2 separate regions of the Homo sapiens genome follow, and region 2 is linked to region 1. Evidence: fine-mapped expression QTL. A gene starts in region 1. The other region holds a variant in brackets. All regions are shown on one strand. Distances are between the middles of the regions.

Region 1 (3,027 bases):
TGCCTGGTCCTCAAAGCTGAAGGGTGGCAGCAACTCAGAAAATAAACAAATGAGACACCAGGTCCCTATTTTTTCCCTCTAGTTAAGAAACCCAGTGACTTCATAACTTTTCCACTGGAATATAGCAGCCCTAGGTCTGGCCTGTTCCCTCCCCAGCCAGTGGTTCATCTGATGCTGACTCTGACAGCTCCCTTTCTTCCCATGCACTCACCCCTAACGACCACAAATAACACAAAGCCCACCACATCCATGCCACACAACCACCCTTCACGCCTCAGCCCAAACCCAAACCTCACTTCCTCAAAAGAAATGCCTCTTACTCAGAGCATCAGAATGGACTTCTCCTTCACAGCACTCATCTCAATTTATAACCGCAGGTACATACGTGAAGTGACCAAGTAAGACTGTAAAATCTGGGAGGGCACAGACTCTATATGTTTTCCACTTCGCCGTCTCCCCAGGGTTTAGCACAGTACCTGGCACACACAATGAAGCAGCACAATAAAGCTCCATGAATGAACGAAGAAATGAATGAACTCCAAAATCATATAACTAAGCATACACCATAAAGAAATCTAACACAACCACCGAATTGGACCCCACAACCATAACTGAACACATAAGCAAGCCCCTCGCACTCTAAATCACGTAAAAAGTAAAAAAAATAAAAATAAAAAAAATAAATATAGCTACATGTTCTGCAGCCGTACATCCAGCATGAATGTCACCCCGCCACATGCCGCATCGACGACACATCCCACAGCCGCACTCAACCCGGCCTCACGATCGCAACCACAACCCACATAACTAACATGATTATACACACATCGCATGACCACACACAACACGAACGACTCAATCCCGTGAAGCAGACATGACAACGTCACACATCGCACAGACACCACACAAAACACTCCGAACATCTCCACACGAACTCAGAATACAAACGCTTCAGCTTTACACAACCAGAGAATCAAACACAACCGCTCGGGAGACAAGCACCCACCCACTCCACCCACAGCTGCACAACCAAACCCAAGTGTATACGCCCCGCGTAACCGCACAACCACACAGAGCCCAATCATCAAAGGCACACACAAGCGAAACGCACGGCCTGAAAGCCCCATCTCCCACCTCTCACGTCACACCCACCACAACCACACACGGCCCGCCCGTCTCCGTTCTGGAGGAGTCGTGTCCCCGCCCCCCAGACTGGGCCTGACCCTCTGTATGTACCCTGCCGGGCTCCTGCGGGCACCCAGGTTTGTCCCCCCCTTCAGGCCCGGGCTCTGGGCCTCCACCGTCCGTCACTCAGCCGCAGCCGCCATCTCCATCGGTCGCTCGGAACTCGGCAGGTGCGCCTGCGGCGGCGACGAAACCGGAAGACAAGCTGGTAGACGCCTGTCGAGCGCCGAGTCTTCGAGGGCGCGAAAAGGGCGGATACGGATTCGAATAGTGGAGGGCGGGCCGGCGGCTTCTGCGCAGGCGCTTTCCGAACGAGGGAGGGGATGGTGGGGAGCGGAGAGAAAGTGGGGCTCGGTAATTTTGTGCGGTTCTTACGTCCCGAATTCGAACTAATAGCGCGTCAAAGCCAGCCAATGGCTCTGCACCGCCTTGTACAGGTGGGAAAGCTGAGACCAGTAGATCTTTGGCTCTTGACCAAAGTGCACAAAGAATAAGGCAGCCAAGGAATCAAAGTTCCTGAGAGCTAGAGACAGAAAAAATATTCAGGGGACGTGGAGGCGATGGAAAGTCCAAGAATAGAACCACATGAGAGTGGAGACTTGGTATGAGAAGGTGTATCCCGGGGTGTACAGCATGGCCAAGCCTGTGGAAAAGATGGCATTTTCAAAAGGCAGGACGATTGATCAGCCAGGACCTACCCCGTGCCTACGCTGTGCTGGGTACCACGGGGTATAGAGAGGCAAAACCTCATCCCAGTCCCGGAGACCTATTTGCTTTGTGCCCTGCACACGTTCTGGACCTTAGCAATAGCCAGCCTCTAGGAGCAAGAGCTGCAGAGAACGATGGGACGATGGGACGATCCTGGGCCTCCGTTTACATCCCTGCAGTGTTACTGGCCCCCTTTTACAGAAGTAAAATGGGGATGATAATGATAGTCTCCGCTTCACAGTGTTGTGAAGATTGAGGTAATTGCACGGTAGGTAGGTAGGTAGGAGGGTGTCCTGCATATTGGCTTTGCCCATCTCACTTTCCCTGCCTCCAAAAAGTCTTCCCCACCTGGTCTCTGGACAGGAGCACTGAGCCTCCATCACCTTCCATTTAAGGACATGGGGCTCCGGACTTGGAGAGCATTGAGTTTTTGGAAAGCAATCACCAGTGAAAGGGCAGTGAACTAGGGGTCTAGAGATCTGGGTTCTAGCCCTGGCTGTACGTTACTTTGTGGCTTTGAGCAGGTCCTTTCCCCTTTCTTCGCCTGAGTTCTCTCATCTGTACAAAAGAAATTGGCTCCAGTGACTTAGCCTTTTCTCTCAATCTGATGGCCAATTTTTTTTTAACGTTACAACATCTGCAGGAGCGAATAATGACTTCCCTTTGTTTACTGATGGAGACAAGGAAGAGGCTTCCTAACCTGTCAGAAGCAAAGCAACATGCCAAGCTCCCCGTCTCCATCACTAGCTTCTGCCTTAGGTCCCAAAAGCCAGGACTTTGGGAGTAAAACCACCCTTTTGAAAGTCTGAAGCCACCGAGGTCCCAAAACGAGCCACACTTACAGGCAGGACTATGTTTTGGGTAGGGCAATGAACGTTTATTAAACCATCATGATTTTTGCTTGTCATTTTATCATTTACAAAAAACATATTTGGTCGGGCGCGGTGGCTCACGCCTGTAATCCCAGCACTTTGGGAGGCCGAGGTGGGCAGATAACTTGAGGTCAGGAGTTCAAGACCAGCCTGGCCAACATGGTGAAACTCTGTCTCTACCAAACATATAAAACATTAGTCGAGTGTGGTGTCGCTCGCCTGTAATCCCAGCTACTCAGGAGGTTGAGGCAGAAGAATTGCT
Region 2 (2,500 bases), 150 kb after region 1:
AGGCAAAACAATACAGCTTCTAGATGATAATGCAGGAAATGTTTTAACCTCAAGAGAGGAAAGATTTCTTAAGACAAAGAGCATATTAAAATGTTTGTAAATATGCTGCATTGATAAGAAAAAAATCTGCAGTTTTTAAAAAATAAAAACACATTCATGTCCTTTGTAGGGACATGGATGAAATTGGAAATCATCATTCTCAGTAAACTATCGCAAGAACAAAAAACCAAACACCACATATTCTCACTCATAGGTGGGAATTGAACAATGAGATCACATGGACACAGGAAGGGGAATATCACACTCTGGGGACTGTTGTGGGGTGAGGGGAGGGGAGAGGGATAGCACTGGGAGATATACCTAATGCTAGATGACGAGTTAGTGGGTGCAGCGCACCAGCATGGCACATGTATACATATGTAACTAACCTGCACAATGTGCACATGTACCCTAAAACTTAAAGTATAATAAAAAAATAAATAAATAAATAAAAATAAAAAAATAAAAACACATTATAAAGGGGGCAATCCAGATGGCCAGTAAACCATTGTAATAGCCAGAAATTGGAAACATATATTCATTGACAACATTTAAGATTATAATATAGTCATATAATAGTCCTGATATAACAATGGAAATAAATTACAGCTACACACAACATAATGGATAAGTCTTAAAAAGCCACATGTACAGAATACATACCATGTGATTCTACTTCTGTGAAGTCAAGAACAGACAAAACTGAAATACTCATGTAAGGATGCACACTAAGGTAGTAAAACTATAAAGCAGAGCAAGAGAGTTATTACTATAAAAGCTCTGTCGAGGGACAGGAGTTGCAATTAGGAATATACAGGGAATTCTGTGGTGCTGAGAGGATTTGTTGATCTGGGTGATGGTTACCCAGGTGTTTATTCACTTTGCAAATGATTAAGTTGTATATATGTTTTACTTAAGTGTTATATTTCATAGTTTTAAAAGGTTTAAAAAATATAGAGAATACAGCCTGGGCATGGTGGCTAACACCT[G/A]TAATCCCAGCACTTTGGAAGGCCAAGACAGGAGGATCGAGTTCAGGAGTTCAAGACCCGCCTGAGCAACATGGCAAAACCTCATCTCTGCAAAAATTTTTTTAAAAATTTAGCCAGGCATGGTGGCATGTGCTTTGTATAGTCCCAGCCACTTGGGAGGCTGAGGTGGGAGGATGACTTGAGCCCGGGAGGCAGAGGTTGCAGTGATCCCAGATGATGCCACTGCACTCCAGCCTGGTTGACAGAGCGAGACCCTGTCTCATACAACAACCAAAAAAAAAAAAAAAAAACAAAAACAGAATACAAATAAAAACAGAACTACCTTCTAAATAAGATTGGGCTTAATTTTGCTTTTCTTACAAACTAATCCAGCAGCAGCAGTTAATAACCCATTAGATACGAAGATTTGATTAAACTATTTTTCCACAAGAAAGTCATTTTTAAAACCTCTACCAGTTTGATAGGTGAAATAGGTAAATAAACCTATTTGCTCTTTTGTACTTAATTTCTAGATAGATTGAACATGTAATAATGTTCATTACAATATTGTTTATTCCCTATTCATGTTTCTTGCCCATAGAGTTGTCATTTTTTTTAATTATAAGCATGAAAAAGGTAAGGGTATTAACTCCTTCACATATTTGTGGATATTTTTCTCAGATTGTCATTTTTCTCCCACATAGAAAAACATTTCATTTTAAAATAATGAATCTGTCTTCTGGTTTCATTTTGCTGTGGACAGGAACTCTCACCACATTACCAAATTAATTTTCACCATATTCTGATTATTTTATGGTTCAATTTTTTGCATTTAAAAAATTCATATGAATATATTTTTATATTTGGTATGAAATACAATTTAAGAGTTTTTTTCTAAATTTTTTGTTACCTCATCACCATCTAAATGAATCTTTCCTTACTGATTTGGAATGCCACGTTTATAATATGCTAAGTACTTCTGTAAATTCAGAGTTTGTTTCAGGGCTTTCTTTCCTGTCCCATAGGCCTTTCCATTTGTTACAATAACAATTTTTTTTTTCTTTTTTTTTTGAGACAGAGTCTTGCTCTGTCACCAGGCTGGAGTGCAGTGTGTGATCTCGGCTCACTGCAACCTCCGCCTCCTGGGTTCAAGCGATTCTCCTGCCTCAGCCTCCCAAGTAGCTGAGGCTACAGGTGCACACCACCATGCGCAGCTAATTTTTGTATTTTTGGTAGAGACGGGATTTCAACATGTTGGCCAGGATGCTCTTGATCTCTTGACCTTGTGATCCACCCACCTCTGCCTCCCAAAGTGCTGGGATTACAGGCGTGAGCCACCGCGCCTGGCCAATGACAATATTTTTAATTATACCCTGTGGCCAGGCGTGGTGGCTCAAGGCTGTAATCCCAGCACTTTGGGAGGCCAATGTAGGAGGATAGCTTGAGCCCAGAAGTTCCAGACCAGCCTGGGCAGCATAGTGAGACCCCCTGTC

The links. PIP is the estimated chance that this variant, and not a neighbour inherited with it, causes the effect. A credible set is the group of variants that fine-mapping cannot tell apart.
Region 2: its variant is the best candidate, but not a certain one, in a credible set for the expression of RBSN in nasal epithelium (TOPMed, PIP 0.84).

Annotation. Positions count from the first base shown.
Region 1 is chr3:15,097,799-15,100,825 of GRCh38, forward strand. RBSN (rabenosyn, RAB effector) reads right to left here and starts at 1,350. Exons shown (of 14, transcript NM_022340.4): 1 at 1,237-1,350; 2 at 321-476. RefSeq lists a silencer at 138-217 and enhancers at 555-1,419, 1,308-1,437.
Region 2 is chr3:15,247,707-15,250,206 of GRCh38, forward strand. The region is part of intron 19 of CAPN7 (calpain 7); the gene reads left to right. Among named protein-coding and RNA genes, the nearest start is that of SH3BP5-AS1, 5.2 kb to the right of the region's middle. The variant G/A (reference allele first, on the strand shown) is at 1,029.